Homo sapiens: one gene and its partners. The protein of the gene in region 2 purifies or fractionates together with the protein of the main gene of each other region. This does not show direct contact. Each region holds a gene or a part of one and is shown on either strand. Other genes may lie near its edges.

Region 1 (2,909 bases), on a different chromosome or scaffold from region 2:
TGATTTTAGATTTAGATTTTAAATTTTAGAGATTTCAGTGACAGATAATTAGAATCAACTCAAAACTGTATTAACTATTTTCTATTCTTCAATTTTGATTACACTGTGTCAAGCATTGCATACATTTCTAAATATTGGGGGTTGGGAAAACTTTTCCATGGAAGTAAGTTTGTTTTCTAGATTTTTTTAGGTTAAAAGTCATATGGAATAAATTAAATCTGAGGCTGATCCATTTATCCATTTACTAGGACATGTAAAAGTATTAATAGATAAGCATGTAATCTATCATTCATATTGACATAATGTATAACATAAATACTGAGCATAAGATAAAAGGTTATCTTAGAATTCCATGCACATGTATTTGTGTCATTTAGTATTAGCATACTGGAATATTGTTGGAACAAGCTCCACTGTTGCTTTTGAATGTAAGGTCAAGCCCATTGTCTTAGAAAGCAGAACACAAAATATATTAACTGTGGAACTGCAGTTGGTAAGAATTCACTAGCATCAGAGTAACTGAGGATAAACACAAGCATACGCATAGAACACCGTTTTTTAAAAATGTATTTTGAATAGTTCCTCCTTCATAGACTTATTCTTACTGATTAGCTGTATCTCATAATTTTAAAAAATAGCAAATGTGTTTTATTTATTTAGTATGCACTTGTAAAGCTGTACTAGTCTTACAAGTTTTTTTCTTATGAGTTCAAGTAATTCTTGTACATGCATTAAATGAAAGCATGATCTTACAAAGAGATTTGTGTCACTGAATTTTTACTCAACCATGGATTTTTAAAAAATGTTTGATTGTTATTAAGGTAATAACTTCAATTCTCTATTTTTCTATACGCTTTTTGTCACGTCTTAATGGATGTTAAAGAGAAAAAAATTAGAAATTAAGTGTTTTAAAATAAATGATAAAGATGGCTGCTTATTTCTATTGTGGAAACACAACTTTGGATAAGTACTTAAATATATAACCCACTAAAGATAAGCACAGTTGGTTGAGAGTATGGATGGAAGAGGTCAAAACACACACCTGGATAGTTTGGCTCTGGTAGACTTTAATCACGTGAAAACTGAAACTGTAAATTCCTTTTCTTGGTGCTACAAAGACAGACTCCAATGTGAAAAAATTACCCACATTCACCAGGATCTACAAATAAAAATAATAAATAACAATAAGTTATTATATTTTCTTCTGTAACTAAAATGAATTTTCTTCCTCTCACTCTCTTCCTCTCCTCTTCCTTCTTTCCCTCCTTCCTTCATTCCTTCCTTCCTCTTTCTTTCTTTTCTTTTTTCTTTTGTTCATTCATTCATTCTTGGCAACTAGCTTAAGAAATCATAGAAAATAAAACATCTAGTTCTGTATCTTTCCTCTTAACTGATTTGGAAAATTGACTGGAATACTGGAAGGTTCTTCTGTCTTTTAAATGATATAAGAATAAATAAAGTAACTGCTTTGTATTCATGTCTCAATTTCCAGCAAGGCCCAATGGCTCTGGAAACATCGAGCTAACATTTGAGAACTTATAAATATTAGCTTTACCTTGAGAGTTGGATAAAAGGCACCCGCTATGTGTTTACATTCCCACCTTCTACAAGCCTTTGCAATGTCCAGAGGTGACGTTTCCAAGCCAGCCAATCAGCATCTGTGAGCTCTCCGCAGCATCCCTGGACAAACCACAGAGGCATGGGTACCCCCTCCACCATGTGACATAATCCTTGACACTGAACAGTTGGTGCACAAAGTGATCTGAATGCCTGGCCCTTCTCTGAGCCACCACCACCCCTCTCCTAAGATCTGTTACCATTTTTTTTTTCATTCCTGTGCCAGCTAGGCCTTAATTATAATAATGTGGCAATGAGTCAGCCCTTGTGGGCTGCCAAAGAGGAGAGCATAGAGAAGGCTAAACTATGAAATAGGTGGCTTTCCCTGTTCCTCCCCGGGCTGTCCATTAACCTCCTATCAATCACCTGCTCTTTATTTGAAGTTCAAGGTTCAAAAGTGAAATTAGATACTGTTTCCCAAGAAAGCAACAATGCATTTTGTATTCCAAAATATTCAGCCTAGTTCTATTGGTTATAAAATTAACTCTAAATTTTAATAAGTGACCTCTTAAGCTAAATTTGCAATGTCACATGGGTAAGTCTCTTTCTATGAGAAAGAGGGATTGGGATGGAGGATGGATGTTAAAATAACCAGGGTTTGTTCCATTTCTTTCCAAGAAATACACCTGTAAGTGGCATTCAAAAATAATAAGAGGTCCCTAAAAAGATATACTTCTCATATATCAATGGCAATCTGCTACTATCTCTTTCGAACACTGCATTCTTGCCAATATTAACACACTTGCAAGCCTCTTGCATAATTCCCTAAAAATGTACTATTACCTCTGGGCAACATACCAGAATGTAGTGACAGTCAAGCAGATGTATCAGGCTCAACACCTAACTTAAAACACATGTACGTGTATAATTTCATTCTGAGATTTCGCCTTCTTCCAAGTAAGCATCAGATTTTTTTTGTAACCTGATGATAGATGGTCTTTCAACAAGTCACCAGCTGTGCAATAATCCCCAGCAGAGGCTTTACAAAGAAATTTTTCAAGCACAATTAAAATAATTTGAGGTGCTTAGTGGTGACTTCCTGATTCAGATACAAGTAGCATAATTCATTAGCAATAATGAAAATAGCTGATTAGTGTTGGCTACATATAAAACTGGATGTTGACTCTACACTGTAATTGGAGCATCCAGGTACATCGAGATTTATAACCAAATGTGTGTTCTTGTCTCTAAGATGCAAGGCTCACTGAAAAGAAGAACAAACCCTTTTCCTCTTCTAATTGATGGAAAGGTCATTGAAAGGAACACCCTGTATAGAGGATAGTGCAATGCCC
Region 2 (3,578 bases):
TGTAAACTGTTGAGTCTCTGCACCTCTGCAGCTCCCTGCCCCCTGATACTGGGTACCCTGTGCCCACTCTGTGCTCTGCTGGCGCTTGGGGCAACACCCACCTTTCTTCTTGTCCGGGGCCTCTCGCTCAGCAGGCCGCCCACCCCCAGACAGGCGGAAGGAGCCCTCGCGGGCGAAGCTGGTGCGGCTGGCATCGAAGGCGGCCGTGACCCCACATTCCTTCTCCCGTCGCTGTTTTCGCTCCAGGCAGGCGGCAAAAGCACAGCCCACAGCGTGGCTCAGCCTCTCGCCCTATGGGGAGAGGATGGGCGGGGGGGTTAGAGGCGCTGGGCAGTGCGGACAGGGGCCAGGGGCACTGGGTTATAGCCGCTAGGTACTGGGTTGCCCCGGATGAGTCTCTGCACTTCTCTGGGCCTCAGTGCTCATCTGCACCACAAGGAAGGGCTGGAAATGACAGCTCCAAGTGAGAGAAGCCAGAAACCAATGAGCCTGTTGTGTGGCTCCACTTACTGGAAATTCCAGAAGAGGCAAAACTAATCTATGGTTCTATGGTGAAAAAAAGTCAGAACAGGCCAGGAGTGGTGGCTCTCGCCTGTAATCCTAGCACTTTGGGAGGCTGAGGCGGGAGGTTCCCTTGAGCCCAGGAGGTCAAGGCTGCAAGCAGCTATGATGGGGCAACTGCACTCCAGCTTGGGTGACAGAGTGAGATTCTGTCTAAAAAAAAGTCAGAATAGTGGTAGTTTCCTATGGGGTGGGGAATGACTGGAAAGTGTATGAGGGGATGACCGGGTGGTGGCAATGTTCTAGATATTGATAGGGGTTTCGTTACATGGGTGTATGCAGTTGTCGAAATTCGTTGACTGTACACCAAAGGCTTGTGCATTGCTATAGACTAAACGTGTGTGTCTCTCTCAGTTCTAACGCTGAAGCCCTCATCCACAATGTGCTGGTATTTGGAGGTGGGCCTTTGAGAGACAATAAAAGTTATGTTAGATCATGAGGTGGGGTCCTCATGATGGAATTAATGCCCTTATTTATTTATTTTTTTTCTGGGACAGGGTCTTACTCTGATGCTATGCTGGAGTGCAGCGGCATGACCTCAGCTCACTGCAACCTCCACCTCCCGGCTTCAAGCGATTCTCCTGCCTCAGCCTCTCAAGTAGCTGGGATTATAGGCATGCGCCACCACACCTGGTTAATTTGTGTATTTTTAGTAGAGATGGGATTTCATGATGTTGGTGAGGCTGGACTCGAACTCCTGACCTCGAGTGATCTGCCCACCTGGGCCTCCCAAAGTGTTGGGGTTACAGGCGTGAGCCACCATGCCCGGCCGGGATTAATGCCCTTAAAAAGGAAAAAGAGACAAGAGATCTCCCCTCCACCTTGAGAGGTGAAGATACAGAAAGCAGGCATCCATCTGCAAACCAGGAAAAGAGCCCTCACCAAGAAATGAGCCATTTGACACCCTGACCTCAGGTATCCAGCCTCTAGAACTGCGGCAAACAAATGTTTGTCATTTAAGCCACACAGTCTACACTATCTGGTTATAGCAGCCTGAACTAAGACAATCATATCTTTCGCTTTGAAGAAAAAAAAAATCTGGAAACAAATACGAATTCTACTTAATGGTGTGCATGCTGAAGTAGTCCAATGCCTACAAATTTGACATACAAAAAGAATCAGACGGTGTGACTGCAGTCGCTCACACCTGTAATCCCAGGAGGCCGAGGCAGGCAAATCACTTGAGGCCAGGAGTTCGAGACCAGCCTGGCCAACATGGTGAAACCCCATCTCTACTAAAAATACAAAAATCTGCCAGGTGTGGTGGCGTGCACCTGTAATCCCAGCTACTAGGGAGGCTGTGGCAGGAGAATCACTTGAAGGTTGGAGGCGGAGGTTTCAGTGAGCCAAGATCGTGCCACTGTACTCCAGCCTGGGGCAACAGAGCGAGACTCCGTCTCAAAAAAAGGAATGAACCACTGATACAAGCAGCTCACGCCTGTAATCCGAGCACTTTGGGAGGCCAAGGTGACTGGATCGCTTGAGTCCAGGAGTTCGAGACCAGCCTGGGCAACATGGCGAAATCCCATCTCTACAAAAAATTAGCCAGGCATGGTGGCGTGTGCCTGTAGTCCTAGCTACTCAGGAAGCTGAGGTGGGAGAATCGCTTGAACCCAGGTTGCAGTGAGGCGAGATTGCACCACTGCACACCAGCCTTGATGACAGAGAGAGACGCTGTGTCATTAAATAAATTAATTAAAAACATTGCCGGGCAGGGTGGCTCACACCTATAATCCCAGCACTTTGGGAGGCAGAGGCAGGCGGATCACCTGAGGTCGGGAGTTCAAGACCAACCTGACCTGCATGGAGAAACCCCATCTCTACTAAAAATATAAAATTAGCCAGCTGTGATGGTGCATGTCTGTAATCCCAGCTACTTGGGAGACTGAGACAGGAGAATTGCTTGAACCCGGGAGGCAGAGGTTGCAGTGAGCTGAGATTGCTCCATTGCACTCCAGCCTGGGTAACAAGAGCGAAACTCTGTTTCAAAAACAAACAAAAACACAACATTACACTAAGTAAAGAAGCCAGACACATATTATATGATTCCATTAAATGAAATATCCAGAATAGGTAAATCCACAGAGAGACAAAGCAGATTAGTGGTTGCCAGGGGGCTGGGGTAGTGGGGAGACGGGGTGAATTGATGAATGGAGATGGGGTCTCCTTTAGCGGTGATGAAAATGTTTCAGGACTGCTAAAGTCAATGGTTAAACAACACTGAAAATGTATTAAATGCCATTGAATTGTACACTTTTAAATGATTAATTTTATGTGAATTTCACCTCAAGAAAAAAAAAAAGTTGAACTTGGGGAATTCTACTGCTTAATGGTTAAAACTTCCTTCAGAAGTAGGAAGGAATTCATCCAACATCACATTCTTTACCCACAGGAGATGGTCCTGCTCTTTTCTGGCTTTCATTCTCATCCCCAAATAGTTTTTTTTTTTTGTTTTCTTGAGACAGAGTCTCGCTCTGTCACCCAGGCTGGAGTGCAGTGGTGCAGTCTTGGCTCACTGCAACCTCCGTCTCCAGGGTTCATGTGATTCTCCCCACATGTGATTCTCCTACCTCAGCCTCTGGAGTAGCTGGGATCACAGGCGCCTGCCACCATGCCTGTCTACTTTTTTTGTATTTTTAGTAGAGATGGGGTTTTACCAGGTTGGCCAGGCTGGTCTCAAATTCCTGACCTCAGGTGATCTGCCTGCCTTGGCCTCCCAAAGTGTTGGGATTACAGGCGTGAGCCACCACGCCTGGCCAATACTCTTTTTTTTTTGAGATGGAGTCTCACTCTGTCTCCCAGGCTGGAGTGCAGTGGTGCAATTTTGGCTCACTGCAACCTCCACCTCCCGGGCTCAAGTGATTCTCCTGCCTCAGCCTCCCAAGTAGCTGGGACTACAGGTGTGCACCACCACACCTAGCTAATTTTTTGTATTTCAGTAGAGATGGGGTTTTACCATGTTGTCCAGGGTGGTCTTGAACTCCTGAGCTCAGGCAATCCCCCCGCCCCAGCATCCC
Region 3 (3,762 bases), on a different chromosome or scaffold from region 2:
AACCAAGGCGCCCGAGGTGAGGAGGATTTCAATGAGAGAAACTCATCACCGGCATCAGCTGAGCCGGCTTCTCCCGGTGCCCTGATTGTTCCAGGTGCCTGCGCATCCCCCCCACCCCCGCTCCCTCACCGGGAAGCCGAGGCCAGGCCGGGTGCCTCTGGCTAAGTGAGCGAAAGTGCCAAGGTTTGGGAACTGTTCTGGGTCTATTACCCGTTAACTCAGATGATAAGTTTATTCTCAGAGCTGCTCTAAGAGGCTACCCACTGAGCCCCCTCGGCGAGTGCATGGAGAACCACCCAGGGATCTTCATCTAGGCGAATTGTTTTCTCCCCTGGAGCGTGTCCCTTCCCCCAGTCCCAGTGGTGACCGGGAGGTACCGTTTTGTTCTGCTCCAGAGCGGTTCTGAAAAATTTCCCAACCAAATCATTCCTACAAAAGATAAATTGATTTGGGGTGTGTTTACATAAATGCAGAAGACCAGTCGAAAAGAACATGGCTTGTCCACTAGAAAAATGTTGATTATTCATTAATAAGTAGATACCAGATCAAGTAATCAAATACATTAATGTAACTTTTCTCTGATACTGGTTTGACAAATACTATATTTCCTTATTTAACTGACCTGTTTTGGAATTCTTCTGAATACAGGTCAAAATTCAACATTGTGAGGAATTTTAAGTAGAGCAAGCACACTTTTTTTTTTACAACAATTACATTAAACTCAATTATGCTTTACAAAGATAGCTTGTTTTTCCTCATAGTGCGCCAAAATTCTACATTTCCAAGACCCTGTTTTCTAATAGATTCTGTATTTGCAACAGTCATAGAAATTGGTGATGGTAAAAACTAAAAACCACATTTAATTCAGGCTTCACGTTAGCCATTCCAGGTGCAAATTATATTACAGCATTGATTTGTAATTTGTGACAACGTTTGGTTAATACACCAGTGAACCTTAAAAAGATCAGAATTGTTACATGTATGATGTGAACCAGTGTTATCTTTTATGTTAACCATGTGCACTACCACAGGCTATAAATATGAAGCAATATTTCAGCAAGATAGAAGCTCCTGTGTATCTCCACATTTAGAGAGAAGTCTGAGCGGTTTCCATCATTATTATATTTTCTGCTTTCACTGTGCCATAGGAAGTGTCTGCCATTTCCTCTTCTTTTAGTTTTTTATAAGAAATATCTGTATCTTCATCTTCATCTAGAGGATCTCGCTTGTGCAACATTTCACTTCCATACATTTTATAGATTAAAACAAAAATCCCCGCTTCTGCAGACTGGAAAAGTGCATACAGCAAAGGAAACATGTACATGCTTCCTATGAATTGCGGTGGAAAGGCCAGTTTTAGAATGGCTGTACAGAGCTGCACATTCTGACTACCTGTTTCCAGACATACAGTCCTCTTGCAGTTGGGTGGAAGATGGAAGAGAGTAGCTAAACCATAACCTGAAGCGTAGCCTGCCAAAGGCATAAAAATTGCTATCACATAAACAGCTGCAGGGATACTTGCCAGCAGTTCAGGTCCTAACATAGTGCCGGTCATTATGAAAAGGACCACCAGAGTCACTAGCAGAGACCACAGGGAAACCTAGTAATAGAAAATTACAATGAGATGGTTGAAGATGAACTCAGGCGAGAGAATCCTAAGCTCACGGAAGAAAACACCCATCTAGTATGCTCTCCAACACAAAATGGAGACCTTTGACAGAATATTTCTGAAGATGGGCAGGCCACCTCTTCAGGAAGCATCCAGAGCCACATTGGGCAGCTCTGATTGTTTGGAGGCCTGTCCTTATGTCCAGGGACAATTTGCCTTCTATAACCTCTAGCCATTGAGTTGGATATAGGCTCTCAGGAGCGACAGAGACCAGCTCTTCAAAAACAAAAAACAAACAAAAAAACCCAGCTTTTCTGGCCAGGCGCGGTGGCTCACACCTGTAATCCCAGCACTTTGGGAGGCTAAGGTGGGTGGATCATGAGGTCAGGAGTTGAAGACCAGGCTGGCCAAGATGGTGAAACACTGTCTCTACTAAAAATACAAAAATTAGCCAGGTGTGATGGTGAATGCCTGTAATCCCAGCTACTCGGGATGCTGAGGCAGAGAATTGCTTGAACCTGGGAGGTGGAGGTTGCAGTGAGCAGAGATCGCGCCACTGCACTCCAGCCTGGGTGACAGAGCAACACTCCATTTCACCAAAAAAAAAAAAAAAAAAAAAAAAAAAAAAAGCTCTTCAAAAAAAAATAGCCTTCAAAAGCTTTTTTCCTGAAAAACAGCTCTTCAAAAGCTTAAAAACTGGTTATCAGGGGAAGGCTACTCTTCTTCAGGCAGATCATCCCCAAACTTAAACCTCCATCACATAACTTTGTTTTGGTATCCTGACTGTTCTGAGAATGTGTTTCATATGTGAATGTGCCTCTTAAAAACAGGGCATTTAGAACTGAACCTAATACCCCAGGTATGGTCTGATCATCAGAGCAGACAAGTGGATGTTTACTTTCCCTGAACTGAACCCCGTGTTTTCCATAAGAAATTAGTTCTCATTTTACATGAGTTAAAACTTGTGAAACTTGATTAAAATGTCTGAAGCTCAGTGTGTGATCTTTTTAACCCTCAAAATATACTGCAGAGGATTGCTTGCAATATTGAAACAATTACCTACTCTTAGATTATGTAAGAGAGAAAAATGTAAATAAATATGTGAAGAATTCTTTGCAATTTGGCAACTTTCCCCTTTTTTATTTGTTCATGAGAAACCTCCCATCTATAAGTCTGTAATGATGCTTACGTATTATTACAATAGATGGATTTCGGATACAGTACAACTGACTTCTGTATAAAACGTGTCATCTTGATGTTCTGACTGGTACATTTCACTCATTCAAATAAAACAGTCTGTATGAATTGTAAGGCGGAAATCTAAAAATTCCTCTCCTCGTTCTCCTTCATATTGGTAGTTAACTTATTTTTTTTTAATGAGGAGTGGGCAGGGAAAGGAAACTAGAGCCAGAGAGAACAGCTTAAATGTTGCTTCTGGTTCCCTGGATAGCTGGGATATCCCTTTTGCAGTCTTCGGGAATGGCGTAACTCTACACTCTTAAAAAATTATTTAAAATTTATCTGAGCTGGTCACAAATTCTACCCTAGAGGATGCTGCAATAATTATTATATAAGGTACAGATACTACAGATGCATAATTGGCAGAAACCAGGCTATTACATGTAAAAGCATACCATTTCAAAGTATGTCACATTGAAAGCGCTGACAAACAGTCTGATTTCTTCATTTTGAAATATTGGCTCCAAAGTCCCTTAGAACTATTTTAAATCATTTGGGCAAGCATTGACATTGAATGCTCATTTTGAAGTGTTTGCAAAGGTGTAACAATTATATAAACCGTTTCTTAATAGTGTGTTAATTAAAGAATAGGGCTAGGTTAACCTTAAATTCAAAGGTAGCTAATCTTATGTCTATTATATTTAAATATTAAATATATTAATTTATTAATATATTTATTTTAAATATATTTCTTGTTTTGGGTGTGTAAATAGGTCATTTGATTGACTTTCTCTTAGACTTCCTAAGGTTTTATAGTAAATGCCATCACATTAATAGCATTAGCTTAATGATTAAGATTAACAAGTTCTTAATGCATCTCAAGAGTATCTATGAGTATATATTACAGGTATTAATATATGCATATTTACATGTACACATACATTTTTACATTCACATATACATGTGTATTATGG

The links. The genes of interacting proteins can lie anywhere in the genome.
Region 1: the proteins of NUMBL (region 2) and CBLN4 purify together in Homo sapiens (co-immunoprecipitation; one large-scale study listed by IntAct). This does not show direct contact.
Region 3: the proteins of NUMBL (region 2) and SLC10A4 fractionate together in Homo sapiens (co-fractionation; one large-scale study listed by BioGRID). This does not show direct contact.

The regions. Positions count from the first base shown.
Region 1 is NC_000020.11:55,999,689-56,002,597, forward strand, and holds part of CBLN4 (cerebellin-4 precursor), read right to left. Parts: intron 1,160-2,909; coding exon 1,043-1,159; intron 1-1,042. UniProt on the Homo sapiens protein: Acts as a synaptic organizer in specific subsets of neurons in the brain. Essential for the formation and maintenance of inhibitory GABAergic synapses.
Region 2 is NC_000019.10:40,677,131-40,680,708, forward strand, and holds part of NUMBL (numb-like protein), read right to left. Parts: intron 292-3,578; coding exon 102-291; intron 1-101. UniProt on the Homo sapiens protein: Plays a role in the process of neurogenesis. Required throughout embryonic neurogenesis to maintain neural progenitor cells, also called radial glial cells (RGCs), by allowing their daughter cells to choose progenitor over neuronal cell fate.
Region 3 is NC_000004.12:48,486,265-48,490,026, reverse strand, and holds the end of SLC10A4 (sodium/bile acid cotransporter 4), read right to left. Parts: intron 1,601-3,762; coding exon 1,088-1,600; 3' UTR 501-1,087; downstream 1-500. UniProt on the Homo sapiens protein: Transporter for bile acids.